Linked DNA regions of Homo sapiens: region 1 is linked to region 2. Evidence: fine-mapped expression QTL. A gene starts in region 2. The other region holds a variant in brackets. All regions are shown on one strand. Distances are from middle to middle.

What was found. PIP is the estimated chance that this variant, and not a neighbour inherited with it, causes the effect.
Region 1: its variant is the best candidate, but not a certain one, in a credible set for the expression of ZNF84 in whole blood (Lepik 2017, PIP 0.74).

What each region holds. Positions count from the first base shown.
Region 1 is chr12:133,223,614-133,231,945 of GRCh38, reverse strand. ANHX (anomalous homeobox) reads left to right here. Exons shown (of 10, transcript NM_001372060.1): 3 at 302-429; 4 at 3,999-4,122; 5 at 4,794-5,010; 6 at 5,508-5,628; 7 at 6,118-6,410. Among named protein-coding and RNA genes, the nearest start is that of ANHX, 8.1 kb to the left of the region's middle. The variant A/G (reference allele first, on the strand shown) is at 3,694.
Region 2 is chr12:133,032,210-133,040,541 of GRCh38, reverse strand. It overlaps ZNF84 (zinc finger protein 84), which reads right to left and starts at 3,033. Exons shown (of 5, transcript NM_001289971.2): 1 at 2,997-3,033. ZNF84-DT (ZNF84 divergent transcript) reads left to right here and starts at 3,320. Exons shown (of 3, transcript NR_110091.1): 1 at 3,320-3,773; 2 at 6,439-6,489; 3 at 7,238-7,883. It also overlaps the pseudogene PTP4A1P2. RefSeq lists a silencer at 2,927-3,106 and an enhancer at 3,327-3,416.

The DNA.
Region 1 (8,332 bases), 190 kb before region 2:
TTAAAGGAAGGGGCCCATTCAAGACTGATGTGAGTGCATCTGCCCAAGGTCTATGAGGTGACCTGGCAGGCCTAGGGTCACACCGCTGAGCCTGCTAGGAATGGAGCGGGGGCCATCTGACTCATGCCTGCATTGTGTGGCCACACTGGCACTTTGTAAAATCAGTGAATTTGAACCCAGAACCCTGCTCTTCCCATCACTGCCTTCCCCAAGGCTGAGTCGGTTTGGGATGGCAGATGCAGGTCCCAACAGTGCTCCAGGGTGGGCAGGTGGCCAGGGCTCAGTACACTCTTCTTGGCAGGGGTGCCAGGTGCCGGGAGGCAGCCAGGAGTTAGTGCAGCTCTGGAACGACATCCACTACCGTCTGGTCATGAGGAGGCTGGGCGTGGCTGCGCTCACCCCGGTGCAGAAGTTCCGCTGCAGGAAGAGGTAACCTACAAGCATTTACTTGTGCATATTTCATGGGGATCCCAAGGGATTAGATGTACCATGCAAAGCCCAGAGGGGCTGAAGCAAAGTGGAGGTGAGGAGATAGGGACAGGAAATGTCCGCCGGAGCAGTAATAGTCACAGTGTAGTCAGCATAAGATGACTTCAGTGTGTGTCACACCTGTGCTGGATGCTGGTCACTGAGCTACACTCTCCACCAGCCACTTCAGTCAGCTGATGGCTGGAAACGGATGGCTGACCACAGGGTGACTGAGGCTAAGGCCAGGAGGTGGGCATCCTCATCATCTCTGCCCAGCATCCACCCAGGGACTGGCCAGAAAGGGGGCTATTGGGCCAGGGACAGTGGAGATGGAGGGCAGGTGGGAACAGCTCAACATGTGTCCCCAGGTCATCTAATCCCCACAATCTGGGCTCTGGGTGGCCACTGAGGGGTTGCAAGGCCTTTCAAAGAGTTAAGGGTGAGAATGTTGCCAGTGTTAGCATGAGTTACATGTCAGGCGCTCAGAATAGTGCCAGGCACATGATAGGCACTAAATAAGTGGTAGTCCTTATCATCGCCACCATTATCAGCACTAAATAAATGTTACTAGTAATTTTTATTATCACCATCATCACCACTTATGGATGAGGAAACGGAGGCACAGAAAGGGTAACCTGAGGTTCCACACGAGAGAGAGTTGCAAAGCCAGGACGCTAGCCCAGACACTGAGAAATTGGAGCCTTTAAAAAAAAAATTGAGACAGGGTCTTGCTCTGTTGCCCAGACTAGCATGCAGTGGGGCGGTCACAACTCTGCAGCCTCAACTTCCCGGGCTCAAGCGATCCTCCCACCTCAGCCCCCCAGGTAGCTGTGACCACCATGCCCAGCTAATTTTTAATTTTTTGTAGAGACAGGGTCTTGCTATATTTCCCAGGCTGGTCTCAAACTCCGGGGAGCCTTATTCTTCATCTCAGGTGCTCTCCACTGGTCAGGAAAGGGCTGTAGATCTTGCTGTGAACTCCTGACAGCCCAAGTCATGAAAGATTCCTGAGCCACAGGGCCTGGTCGGTAAGAATACTGGTCGCTGAAGGAAGAAGACATGGATACCTTTTGGGCTCAGAGAATTTTCTTGCGTGGTACCCATCAAATAGAGTGACAGAGTAAGACAAGTCGTCAGAAGCCCAGCAGTAAATCAGCTGTGGGGTCTTCAGGGGATGTGATTGTAGCCCCCCACGGGCATGCTGACACCTGCCAGAGTGCAGTGGTGTCATCTTGTCGACATGTTTGTTAAGCACCCCCTGCCTGCTGGGTTCTGGGAGGTGCTGGGGATGAAGGCCAGGCTCTGCCTCCATGGAACTGACATTGGGATGTGGACAATAGTCAACAGACAAGAAAATAAAGTAGGTCACATAATTCAGAGAGTGAGAAGTGCTATGCAGAGAATATGTCCAGAAGAGGGCTGTGCAAGGTTGGCTGCTTTAGATGGGGTGGTCAGTGCAGGCTGGTCCTAGTCTTGGAGGAGAGTCTTGAGTATGGTGATGTGTCAGCCATGTGAGCAGAAGTTTCTGGGAAGGGGCAGCACATTCAAAGACTTGGGATCAGAGAAGCTTGGTGTTCAGGGGCAGATGGGAAGTATTTTGGGGTGTATGTGTTCACAGCCCTTGAAAAATGTAAAAGCAGGTGTTGGAATGGATTCGCTCACCCTGCCTTAGAGGCTGATGAGCAGCAGGAGGACATTGAGCCGGCAGCCATGGTAGCTGCTGGATTGGGTTATGACCATGCTGATGGTTCCCGGGTGGTGTCAGGAAGGGATGGCATCTGAGTCACAGAAGATGCAGATACAGGGATCAGGAGTAGATGCTGGAGTTTCTAGGAGGTTCCAGGCATGCCCAGGGCTGGGATCGTGGCTGGGGAAAGTGGAGAGTGTTGTGTCAGTACCCTGACACAGGAGGTGGAGCTGGGGGGTTTGCTGATGGGCTGTACACATGGCAGGAGGTAAAGAGAGGGCTAAAGTAGACTCCAGGGCTCTTGGCCTATGTGGGAACCACCAGGAGCATGAGGGTTCCTTCACTGAGATGCACAGGAGCTGGGGAAAAGTCTGGAGAGGGGGGATGGAGTTCTTTTGGGATTCATGATGTGCGAGATGCATTTTAGATGTCCAAGTAGGCACTGGGATGACACACCTTCTACAGACAAGTAATATTGGTGCATATATCATCTTTTCCTTATGAAATATTCAAATCTGCTCAGCACTAGAGAGGAGCATAACCAGCTGGAACACCCCCAGTGTCCAACTCCAGCATTGCTCAGACACGCATCCCTTTGTCATCTCTGTGACTGATACTGAAATCCTGGGAGCGCACAGAGAAAGGGGTCCTCTGTGTTCAGGGGACAGACCTCTGGGACTTTGCAGCCCAGAGGAGGATGAGGAAGATTCAGCTGAGACATGGCCAGTGAGAGGAAGAGGAAATCCAGCAGTGCAGAGTTCAGAAGCCAGTGAGGCTGAGGAGGTGCCAGTTAAGAGGAGAGCTGAGAAATGAACTTCGGATTGTGTGAGCTGGGCAAGTGCTTTTAGTGGCAAGGTGCAAGGATCCAGGTGTGTCACAGAGACAAGGAGACAGTGGCAGTGATCCAAGATCATTCTTTGAGAAGTTTAGCTGGAACTGGAGCAGACTCATGGGATCACCACTGGAGGTGAGAAATTTACAGAGCTTAGCAGCTCATGAGAATGACTTACTAGAAGAAATGCTGGTGATGGCAAGCAGGGAATTAGTTCAGGGGAGTGTTCTTAGTGAGATGGGGGATGAGCAGGTGCCACGGCTGGAGCCTCCCCTCACCAGGGGCCCCACAGGCATTTGGGGAGTGCAGAAGGGCTGGCAGGTTTGCTGGGGGCACAGGTGGTGCTTCTCTTCTGAGAACATCTTGGTGAAATGAGAGCCAGATCACCCAAGGACATTAAGTCTTGGGAGGAGGTCTTGGGGGTGAGAGACGAAGGGAGAAAGCTGGCGTGGCCATGCAGGGTGGCAGGGGTGTGAGTGCTGCAAGCCTCAGAGGACTCATGCAAGAATGGGGCTGATGCCTGGAAACCAGCGATGAACAGAAAGCACTGAATGGAAAAGCACCCAGGGTGGCAGCCAGGTCCTGAGGACAACAGTGTGTGTGTGTGTCCAGGAGGGCCATCCACGGGAGCTCCATGGGCTGAGGACACCTGTGTGTGAGTACGAGGAAGGCTGTGCACGCGGCCTCCATGGATGAGGATGTCTAC[A/G]TGTGAGGATGTCCAGGAGGGCCATCCATCGGGGCTCCATGGGCTGAGATGCACCCAGGAGCACTGCAAGGGCCCACAGAGGGCTCCTCACAGTGGCCTGTAGATGTTCTGGAACAGTATTTGTCAGGGTTTGTGCATGTCTGTGGAAGAGACTCTAGTTTTCACTAACTGGAGGCAGAGAGAGGCATCCCCCAGGAGGAGGCACAGGGAAGGAAGTGTCACCTTCTGCAGAGGGCCAGGCCTGGAGAAGGGAACAGATTTGGAGGGGTCCTGTCTGTTACCACCTCCTCACTGTCCTTACCCAGGAACCCCCCGCCCCCCTCCCTCTGCCCAGAGGGGCTGAAGAGCCGGAACTTCCCCAGAGAGGTTCGTGAGAAGCTGCACAATTTCGCTGTGGGGGTGAACACCAACCCCAGCAAGGCTGAGAGGGTAAGAATAGAAGATACCCAGGACCCAGGGGGTCCCTGCCTGGTGCCTCCCTGTCCCCCAAGGGGTACCCCCACCCCAGGCTCCTCAGTGGCCTCATCCGCCAGGGTGCTGGTGGTTTCAGCCCCTCCTCTGGACAGGGACCTTGTTGATTGGCAGACTGTCCTGTCTGCCACATAAAGGGTTTCATTTTCTCACGTGGAGTCATAACATCTGTGTATGTGGCCCCACGGCTGCTCACTCAGCACCCACTGTGTGCCAGGCACCAGGACGATGGGTCGAGGCATCTGCCAGCTGACATGCTCTCCACTGCACAGTGGGTTTGTGCCAGGCACAGGCAGTGTGGTTCTGCAGGCCCTGCCCCTCCAGGGGCTTGGGGTGGCCCTGGGCATGTTGTCTGGGTGGACCTAGCAAGGGCCCCACTCAGGGGGACGTGCACATGTGGCTGTGCAGACAGCCTGACCTGGGCCTCACTGCTCAGGGGATGGGGATCAGCCCAGGGAGGTGAGGCCTGCATGTTCTGCTCATGCTCACCGCTCTCTGCTGTCCTTGGAGAGGTTAGGCTGGGCTGTCACCCCCTTTCTTGGTGTAAATGAGCTGTCTGAGCCACTTCTGCACACCCCCTGTCCTCAGGGAATGGAAGCAGGGCTAGAAGTCTTGTTGTTTGGGGGCAGGAGAACTTGGCATTGGAGACGAGCTTGACCCCTGAGCAGGTGTACAACTGGTTTGCCAATTACCGGCGCCGCCAAAGAGCCCTTCCCCAGCACATGAAGCCAGCCCAGCAGGCCACAGCTGAAGACCCTGGTGCGAGGGAGAGGGGTCCTGACCTCCTGCAGCCCTCAGGCAACCCCCGTGTTGACTCTGGGTTTGTGGACAGGCCTCAGTGGTCAGGTGAGTGGCCTGAGGGCCCCAGTCTCCTTGTGGTCGGGGAGCTGGTTTCTGACAAGGGCCAGGCCTAGGTAGTCACACTGCTTACAGGGGTAGCCCTCCTCCAATCAGTAGGTTCCAGGTGTCACTCTGTGGGAGCAAGATCACAGGGTCCGAGGTCTGAGGCTCAAGATGCCCAGGCTGGGCTGTGGCTGCCCCTATGCATTTTGAGGTCACTGTGTGGCCGGGCCAGGAGCTGGGCTGGAGAGGAGGGCATCGTGTGGCCAGAGGAGGAGTTGGTGAGTCAATTTGAGAAGTGAACCAAGCACCGGGATTTGGGGTGTCCTGGGTTGGCAATTATGGATTGTTGGTTCACACCAAAGACAGGACAAGAAGCAAAAACATTGGGATGGCCCCATGGCAACAGCCTTTTCCAGCCAGCAGGGCTGCTCATACCTGATGGGAAGGAGGTTGGGAACCAGAGCCTCACTAAGTCTCCCCTCCCATCTCATCACTTTCAGAGGAACGTGAGGAAAAGGGGCCTCCACAGTCCCCACAGACCACCCAAGGACCATGGGAGCCACTGGCCTTAGCCCCGGACTTTCCCGCAGATGAGACAGTCTCAAAGCCACTGGATGTCAGGTACTGTCATCTCCATGGCCATGGAATCATCTCACCTATTCAGTTCCCTTTCCTCCTCAGGTGGAGACTAGGGCATGAAGTAGGCCTAAGGGTGACAGGACCCCCACACTGGGATCAGGTCAGACCCCAGGGAGAGGGAAGCCACCAGCAAGGAGCCCACGTCAGGGACTGGGGTGGGGGTGGCTTCTTCTGAACCCACACGTGCTCCTGCAGCCTGACTCATCACCTGAGTTCATGTCTGTCTTGGAGAACGGGGTAACAGACTTAGAAGGAAACACATGCAGCCCTGCCACCTAAAGACAAACCCAGCTGTCCCTGTGGTTTGTTTCTAGTACTTTGTCTGTTTTGCTTTTCATTGAGTTAATACCAGCCAGTATCTCTTGAGTTCCTACTGCACACCAGCACTGTTTGAGCACCGTTGTGCTCCCTCCTGCCCTGCCCTGAGGGAGGCTCTGCCCACCAAGAGACAGTGTTCTCCATGTCCCCCAGGTCTCTGCCAGGTGGCGAGATGTACCAGGAGGGGCCTGGCCATGATCCTGCCACCCTCCCCCTCTTCTGCCCTGGCCCTGGCCTCTGCCCTCTGGCTGCTGGCAATGACATGCTGAACCCCTCTCTGGCTGCCCCTGAATCTTGGCTGATGTCTCTTGCACTGGCGTCCTCCAAGGAAGTTTCCTTCCAGACTGGGCAGCTGGTCCACAGCCATGGGCTGGACTTCATGATGGGCCCTGCAGACACCGCTGTGGCTGTGTCCATTGCCACCCTTGGAGATCCCAGCCCTACAGGTGGGTCCACTTCAGACAGACCATGAGTTTCAGCACCAGACACTGTGACTACTCAGGTCCTGTTTGAGGGGATAGAAGTGTGGGTAGGGCCACACGGCTTGAACCCATGGTATTTGATTAGACCTGGAACCAATGTAGCCAGAACAAAGACTCTTCCCACAAACATCCCAGATTATTTCTCATCTGTTTTATTGTGTGTGTGTGTGTGTGTGTGTGTGTGTATGTATGCATATCACTGAAGAGGAAGAGTTGAAAGGAAAGAGCTGCCACCCTGTGCTCTCCACTGCAGTCCACTTGATTTATCTATTAACACCGGGTGCAGCAGAGAAGGCTGAGCTCCTTAGACTCCCCGCTTGTCCACCCCCCTTAGCCTGTAGTAGAGATCCCATGATTTTAGCTTCTAAGTTATCGTTGAAGCTGTAAAATCATTTAAAGAGTATGTATTTAGATGTATATTTTGCCCATCCAGTACACCAGAATCATGAGACTTCTCACTTTGTAAGGAGGAAACTGGAGCTATGAATTCACCCAAATTTCTTTCTTTCTTTTTTGTTTTTGTTTTTTTTTTTTTTTGAGACGGAGTCTTGCTCACCCAGGCTGGAGTGCAGTGGCGTGATCTCGGCTCACTGCAACCTCCTCCTCCCAGGTTCACGCCATTCTCCTGCCTCAGCCTCCCGAGTAGCTGGGACTACAGGCGCCCGCCACCACGCCTGGCTAATTTTTTTGTACTTTTTAGTAGAGACGGGGTTTCACCCTGTTAGCCAGGATGGTCTTGATCTCCTGACCTCATGATCCGCCCGCCTCGGCCTCCCAAAGTGCTGGGATTACAGGCGTGAGCCACCACGCCCAGCATTTTTTTTTTTTTTTTTTTTTGAGATGGAGTCTTGGTCTGTCACCCAGCCTAGAGTGCAGTGTCACGATCTCGGCTCACTGCAACCTCTGCCTCCAAGGTTCAAGCGATTCTCCTGCCTCAGCCTCCCGAGTAGGTAGAACTACAGGCACCTGCCACCACGCCCGGCTAATTTTTTGTATTTTCAGTAGAGACAGCATTTCACCATGTTAGCCAGGCTGGTCTCAAACTCCTGAACTCAAGGGATCCACCCGCCTCAGCCTCCCAAAATGCTGGGATTACAGGCGTGAGCCACCATGCCCAGCCAAATTTACCTATATTTAATATTCTATGGGTATATACATCTTTTCTCTTCAGCTTTTTTTTCTTCTTGGAGCTTCTCCATGCCTTTCCTTTTTCTTTTTACATTGTCTGCTTTTATCACATTTTTAACATCTTCCAGCATTTGAAGCATCCCATCTGAAAACTCACTGTTGGGGGCCCTCCATTTTCCCTTTCCCCTCCAAGTGACAGCTCCCTAGGCCTGGAGTGAAGCTATTGTCCCCAGTGCTCCCATGCTGCTTCCCTGGGTTTACTCCAGGGTGTCCTGAATTTCAGGTCTGGTTCTTTCTTTATTTGACTCCCTTGTTTTGTTAGCCAGCAGCTTCAGTTAACTTTGCAAGAAAGAGTGCCTGCAAGATAAATTATCCGAGTCCTCATTTGTTCTAAAAATGTCTTTAATCTGTCTTCAAGTTTGGTTAACAATTTTGCAAGGACAGAATTCTGAGTTGAAATGCTTTTCCCCCCCTCATAATTTTTTGGAGCTCTTAGATTCTTTTTTTCTTATTTTTTGGGGGGGTGGGTCTTAAAGTTCTGAAATTTCACGCTGAGGGTCCGAGGTTGTGGGTCTTTTTACTTCATCTTGCTGTTAAGACTTTAATCTTAAAGAATAAGGTCTCCTGGCCGGGTGCAGTGACTCACGCCTGTAATCCCAGCACTTTGGGCGGCTGAGGCAGGCGGATCATGAGGTCAAGAGATCAAGACCATCCTGGCCAATATGATGAAACCCCATCTGTACTAAAAAATATTTAAA
Region 2 (8,332 bases):
GGCATGCAGTGGCACAATCAGAGCTCACTGCAACTTTGAACTCCAGGCTCAAGGGATCCTCCTGCCTCAGCCTCCCACGTAGCTGGAACTACAGGTTTGTGTGCCTCCATGCCCAGCTAACTGTTTTTGTATTTTTTTTCTTTGTAGAGACAGGATCTCGCTATGCTGCCCAGGATAGTCTCAAACTCCTGGGCTCAAGCAATTCTCCCACCTCAGCCTCCCAGAGTGCTAGGATTATAGGCATACAACACCACACCTGGCTTCAGCATTCTTTTGGTATTTACGTGGTATGTTATCATCTGGTCAACTACACTAAAAATCTTAGCATCATTATCTTTGTCCCTTATAAGCAGCTCAGAGCTCAAATTTATTGGTGTTTAAAAAAAAAAAAATCCAAATTGGCCAGGAGCGATGGCTTACGCCTGTAATTCCAGCACTTTGGGAGGCCAAGGCAGATGGATCACCTGAGGTCAGGAGTTCAACCAGCCTGACCAACATGATGAAACCCCATCTCTACTAAAAATACAAAAATAAACCAGGCGTGGTGGCATGCACCTGTAAGCTCAGCTACTTGGGAGGCTGAGGCAGAAGAGTTGCTTGAACCTGGGAGGTGGATGTTGCAGCCCGTGCCATTGTACTCCAGCCTGGTGCAACAAAAGGGAAACTCCATCTCAAAAAAAAAAAAAAAATCCAAACCAACAGTGTGTCTTTTAACTGACAAATTGAATACATTTAATGTTTATTGTGGTTACTGTTTTTCCCCCCTCCTTTCTTGCCTTCAAAGCCTCAATTTCTGTACTTGCTAAAATGGTGAAGATAAAGTGGACCTCACAATGGGAGTCTAAGAAACAAATGAGGTGTTAAAAGGAAAGCGACTGGGGCCTTGTAATAACAGTTACAGCTAACATTCCAGTGCTTTCTGTATGTGAGACAATATACTAAGCATTTTAAATTTAACTCATGCACAACCCTATAAGGCGTTTAACATAATCTCCATTTTACAGAGAGAAAACTGGGACAATGAGTGATTGTAAAATGTGCCTGTGATTGCACATTTAGTAAGTAGCAAAATTCAAATGTTAATTCTCTATCCTGCTATGTTCAAAGCATGAATACTAAAGTCATATTGTCATTTGTGCATATCTACATGCACAAACACACACAACATAAATCCTGGAGTCAGCTCCTATTCCCATGCACACATTCAGTCACTAATTCCCACAAAAATATAAATGAAGGACGCCCTGCCTCAACTGTATCACACTAACAAGCAGCACTTTCTTTTTCATGCCTTTTTGTGGTTCAAACTTCAGTGCCAACTCAGAAACACACAGCAGTTTCTCCCAGTTATACAAGAAATGACTCCTTTATACCTTAAATTGTGATAATACATAAATCTTAGAACAAAAGCTGGCACACAGTCATACGAAACATATACTAGCTATAATTATTATTATAAAAGTAATATATGATGGCAAAATATAAAAAACATACACAAGCTAAATAAGAACTATTATCTATGATCTCACCACAGGTAACCATTCTTAGGATGATGGAAACTATTGTGATATTTTTCATACAATGGAAGCATATGGTCATATTTAAAAGCTGTTTTTGTTTTTTTCCCATTATGTGAAGAACATCTTTCCAGGTCAATAACCTTATTTCTGTAAGATATAAACAACTCACATAAAATAACAAAAAAATAAAATCCGACTCATAATTGACAAAATACATAAAATATGTAGGAATATCAAGACCCATATGAAGCATACTAAAAACACCAATGAGAACTATAAAAATAGAATTAAAGAAATTTATAATTCGATTTTATTCTGGGATAGGAAGACTTCAGATTGTGAAGATAATTTGACCTCAAATGATTTATATAACTCATCGACTCCAATCAGAATCTCAAAATTCTAAAGTTTATGTGTAAGAAAAAAGGTTCAAGAACAATTCGGACACTTTTTTTTTTTTTTTGACAGGGTCTTACTGTGTTGTCCAGGCTGAAGTGCAATGGCATAACCATAGCTCACTGCAGCCCTGAACTCCTGGGCTCAAGTGATCCTCCTACCTCAACCTACAGAGTAGCTGGGGCTACAGGCATGCCCTACCACACCGGGCCTGGATGCTTTTGGAAATACAAAATAATGAGTGTGAACAGGCCCACTGTAATACATACAAATTATAATCATTATAACATTTGACACTGGCTCCAGAGAAGTTATACAGATGAAAAAAAGCAAACTGTCTAAATATGCAAGAGTCAGCATGCAATAAATGTAGCATTTCAAAGCCATCAGTAAAATTAAATTATTTAATGAATACAAGAATATTTGAAAGAAAATAAACGTAGCTATTTCATACAACTACTTTCAGTGGGTTAAATTTTAAAATAATGGAAACCCTAAGAATGTCTACAAAAAAAAACCACAGGTGAATGAATATATGTATAATTTGAGGGGAGATTTCGCTACACCATACCAAAAGCAAAAGTCACTTAAAAAATTTAAAACAGTCAATAAATATAACCATTAAAAAATACACGGCCAGGAATGGTGGCTCACACCTGTAACCCCAGCGCTTTAAAAGCCTCCTTCGATAGCGGCAGAGCCAGGCTGCTGGTGGATGCGGTCCAGCAGGGCAGCCGCTCCTTAGGGCCACGGCGCGGCAAGCGGGCTGGCCCGAGGTCGAGGCTAAACGCGCCCGAGGCTAAACGCGCCCGAGGCTGGCGCCTCCACGCCCGCCTGAAAGGACGCCCAGGAGCGGCGCCTCCGGAAAGGCCGTGCCCGCCCCACAGCCCAGAATCCGCGCAGCTCCGCGGCCCACGGCATCTTCACGACCCGGCCCAGCCCCAACCCGCCCCAGACCCGCATCCGCGCGCGGACGCCCAGGGCCTTGAAGCCGAAGCTCCCCGCGGCCACTCCCGCGCGCCTCCCCCGCCATTCCCGGAGCCCCCAGCGCCGGGCCCGCAATAAACTCACTGAACTCACAAAAGACGCCGCCGCCGAGTCGCGCCCGCGCGCCCGCGGCCTCGCGATCACGTGACACCGCCCGTCCCCCGTGTCCCGCGCACGCGCCCAAACCGTCGGCCTTTGTGCGCTCCCGGGCGGCTCCGAACGGGCCGGGACGAGTCGGGGACTGCACACGCGCACACTCGCACGCGCGCACACGCGTACACTCCCCTCTCACGTGGCAGCGAAGGACAAAGAGGAAGAACGGGCCACCTGCAAGCATTACCAAGAGTGCATGTGCGCATGCGCGAAGGAAGGAGCCCCGCGAACTCAACTTCCCACAGTGCCCCGCGTCCGGAAGTGCCTGTCGCTTGGAGACGGAGTGACTCCAAACGGGCTCACACGGTTTTCTGAGAAACATAAAGGGAAACCGAATCCACCAATATATATATATATTTTCTTGAGACGGCGTCTCGCTCTGTCACCCAGGCTGGAGTGCAGTGGCGTGATCTCGGCTCACTGCAAACTCCGCCTCCCGGGTTGACGCCATTCTTCTGCCTCAGCCTCCCGAGTAGCTGGGACTACAGGCGCCCGCCGCCACGCCCGGCTAATTTTTTTGTATTTTAGTAGAGACGGGGAGTCACCGTGTTGCCCAGGCTGGTCGCGAACTCCTGAGCTCAGGCAATCCGCCCGCCTTGGCCTCCCAAAGTGCTAGGATTACAGGCGTGAGCCACCGCGCCCGGCCCACCAATACTCAATTGGTTTGACTTCAGTTGAGGAAACCAGAAAAAATTTAAATATATTTATGGAAAGAAGGTAAGAATTAACAGAAAAAAGTAAAGTTGATCCATAACTGGAGTCGTAGGGAGAATTATAGGTAAGTCACGATGCTTATGACAGCAAGATGGGGCCGGGGAGATGGAGGAGAGAGATGAAAAAAGAGAAATAACCATAGACACATAGGAAATTGAATGAAAATCCGCTCTATACTAATAAATTTGATAATTTGTGACACAAATGATTCTCCAGGACAACATGGGCCAAATTTGACCCAATTTTATCCACAATTTGAAGACAAATTCAGAGATCCTTTGCCAGAAAGCATCATAATGAGTTGCTTAGTGAATTGCTTCAAACATCCAGTGATTAGAGAATTCTTATATTTATTCCCAGAGGTAGAACTCACCAGTGAAGTACTAGCATAAAAACAGACGCATGGACCAATGTGGAACAGCGTAGAAAAACCAGAAATAACCCCATGCATATACAGTCAACTAATCTTAGGCAAGTCAACTAATCTTGTGTCAAGAATACACGATGGGGAAAGGACAGTCGCTTCAATAAATAGCGTGAGGAAACCGGATATCCAAATACTGCTACGCAAAAGACCTCATTGCCCGATGTGCACAGAAGCCAATACTATGGCACCAGGCGTTTGAGAAAAGAAAAGCTTAATTGCGAGTTGACCAACAAAGTGACAGGAGTTTAGTTCAAATCTATCTCTCTGTGCTGCCCTTAAGGCAGCACTATTGTGAAAAAAGGTTTAGAGGGTGGATTCTGGGATTCACAGGTGAATGGTGAAGGAAAAAGGAAGTCTGGAAAGTCCCCGACCATGTGCAGTTGTCTCTTCAAGCCTCTTCTTGGGTCCCATGTGCAAATTAAGGTAGAGTTAGTGTGAAAAGTGCAGTGGAAATTCAGGCTGCGACATCAGCAAGCTCATTCTGCATGGACTCCGTTTGGTTATATTGGTTTCAACTGATTTCAGCCAGTTGTATTATATTACAAACGGAGTTTCAGCAAACTGTTTCTTATCTGCCATCCTGTAAGCTCAAGAATTTCTGTTAGCCGGACGCGGTGGCTCACGCCTATAATCCTAGCACTTTGGGAGGCCGAGGCGGGCAGATCACCTGAGGTCAGGAGTTCGAGACCAGCCTGGCCAACATGGTGAAACCCTGTCTCTACTAAAAATACAAAAATTAGCTGGGCGTGGTGGTGCACACCTGTAATCCCAGCTCCTCGGGAGGCTGAGGCAGGAGAATCGCTTGAACCTGGGAGGTGGAGATTGCAGCGAGCCGACATCGCGCCACTGCACTCCAGCCTGGGCGACAAGAGCGAGACTCCATCTCAAAAAAAAAAAATTCGTTAGTCACTGGTTTCTTTAACTATTTGGGGGCATGGTTTCACAACTTCTTCTTCTTCTTTTTTTTTTTTTTTGAGACAATCCCTCACCAGAATCTAGGCCTTTTCTAACCTGCTCCTCCAGACTCTTCCAAACTCTGCCCATTACCCAGTTCCAAAGCCACTTCCACATTTTCAGGATTTATTATTAGCAACAGCCCCACTCCTCAGTACCAATTTTCTGTCTTAGTTTATTTTCTATTGCTGTAACTGAATACCTGACACTGAATAATTTATAAAGAAAATGAATTTATTTCTTACAGTTCTGGAGACTGGGAAGTCCAAGGTTGAGGGACACTTCTGGTAAGGACTTCCTTGCTAGCAGGACTCTCTGCAGAGCCCCAGGTCAGTCCAGGGTGCACACTGTGAAGGGGGATCAAGCAGCCGAGCCCATTTCTCTCTTTCTCTTCCTATAAAGCCACTAATGCCCACCCTCATGAGCTCATCTAATCCTAGTTACCTCCCAAAGGTCCCACCTCTCAATTGCCATAGGCAGCTTTCCCACTCTCCTAACACTGTTACAATGGGGGTTAGTTGCAACGTAATTTTCAGAGGGCATAGACATTCAAATCATAGCAGTATATATCCAAAATAAATAAAATTAAAAGATATCTCAGCGATATCTGCACTCCCCTGTTCATTGCAGCATTATTCACAATAGTGAAGATGTAGAAACAACCTAAGCATCTATCAAAAGATAAAGAAAATGTAGTATACGTACACAATAGAATATTACTTGGCCTCAAAAAAGGAGAAAATTCTGTGATTTACTACAACATGGATGAGCCTGGAGGACATTATGCAAAGTGAAATACACATAGAAATACACGGATACAGAAAGAAGATACTACACGATCTCACGTAGATGTGGAATCTTAAAAAGTCGAACTCATAGAAACAGTGGAAGAGTGGTTACCAGAGGTCAGGTGGCAAGTAGGGGAAATGAGGAGATGTTGGTCAAATGTTTTAAAAAGAGAACAAACTTGCAGTTATAACATGAATAAATTCTGGAGACCTAATGGACAGCATGGTGACGACAGTTAATAATATGTTGTACGCTTGAAATTCACTTAGAGTAAGCCTGAAATACCCTAATCACACATACCTAAAGGGTAACTATGTGAGGTGATGGATACATTCACTGGCTTGATTGTGTCAGTCACTTCACAATGATATATATATATATATATATATATAAAGATCCCATTGTCATCTTGGATACAATTTTATCTCATTTTTTTCTTTTCTTAAACATTTTATTGATTTTATAGAGGGATTTCTTTTTTTGTTTGCATTTTTCCAGCTATTGGGAGAGTGGCTGAGTACTGAGTCTATCACTACTTGGATGATACAGGTAAGACTCCAGATTCACATTTCCAAGTACTAAGAGTTCCTCTAAAATGCCACAATCCAGCCGGTCTTCATTTACATTTCTGCTGAACACAGCAATGCCCACTGGTATCTCTGAAGTGTAATTGCACCTTAGGTCGGCATTTCTCCAAGTAAAGCAGCTGTTTGGAATTGAATGCTCCCCTTCTTTTTTGTCTTATAAACTGAACTGCATCTTCATACTTAATTCCATATTCAAAGCAAGCGCTGCCAGCACAGGTGCCCTTCCCAATCCCACAGCACAATGCACTGCAAGGCAGCAACCTGGCTTTTCACGCCCTTTAGTGATTAACAGGTTTAGCCAGTCATCTGCTATCTGATTAGGTGGTGGAGCTTCATCGTCAAAAGACCAATCTAAAATATGGATTCCTTCTTTTTCAACTGGAACTTTACCAAATGTAGCATCACAAACTCAAACCAAAGGTGTCACTCCACACGTCTCACATTCCTCTGTGAACTTGTTGCAGTGGCACTGGTAGACTTGTGGGTTATGAGAAAATGCATGTTCCTGTAAATCTCCACAGGGGCTGAACAGTCCATTATGGCAAAGAAAAAGTGTGAGCATGTGTGTGAGTGTAATGGGGAAAGTGAAAAAAAATCAATAAATCTTGAAATGTTTCACAGCAGAAAACTTTTTAATGTTTTATTTTTAGATCACTAAACTGCCTATTGATCAGTGTTTTTTCTATTTAACTTGTCTATTCCTTATGAAGCTTCTGTCTTCAAGATAAGCAGAATTGTTCAGAATCCACTGGAATCCAAATTCAACTTGGGCCTCAATTTCTGCAGATGGACACCTCTGGACTCCAAAAAATCCAAGGACATAAAAAACTTAAGCAGCCTTTATTACATTTAGTTCAACAAGTTTAAAGTGTAGGTCACTTTCCACTTTTGTTTACTTGATGCTTAATTTTACTGGAATCGTTAAAAGAAATATACTTGCAATTTTTTTAAAAAGGTATCTATTTCTGAGGCCAGTCTTGGTGTCTAGAGTTTTCAAGGTAGTATTAATGACAGCACGTAGAACCTCAAAGCTCATTTGTCGGTGAAAATGCTGTGCTAAGCCTGGCAGAAGTCTGCTCCCACACTCAGAATCACCATAAATGTGCAACATCACCAGAAAGTGCTGGTGTGCTGGGCACTGGGCATTGGAGTTGGGGATGGCTGCCCCAGCCTCTGTACACGACACCTGGCCTGGTGGATCCAGAGTTAGTCTTGCTGCCCAGCTGCCACTCCAGCCACTCCCTAGACACAATTTTAAATTGTCAGATATACCTTTAGTAAAGCTGAAAAAACAATTCCAGAGGAATTAAAAGGAGGAAAATTTTCTATTTATTAAATAGCATAAAGATACCAAAATTGATGAATGTATGATTTGAAAAGAAACCTCAAACTTAAGATTATGCAAGCATCAATATTGAGAAGTTATTAACAGAGAGAAGCTGGCAGTGCATTGCTAAAATATACTATAAGCAAATGGATTCTATTCTAGAAACACAAAGTTGATCAGAAAATCTACTAATATTACCATCGCAGTAAGTTAAGGGGAAAATAAAATCACTTCAATTACATGAAAAAATTAATTTTAAAATATATTTTAGATTTTATAAAAATAGCAAATTTGTTTGCTACCTTAACATGATAAAAAAAGAAAACCATAGGATTTTAACCGTAAAGCCAGTGTGCTTCTTAATGGTAGAATATTAGGAGGAGTTAGGAACAAGATATGGATACTGACTTACATCAGGATTTTTAAAAATTGGACTAATATTAGAAATGCAGAAACTGCAGATAGCGAGTTTCAGTGG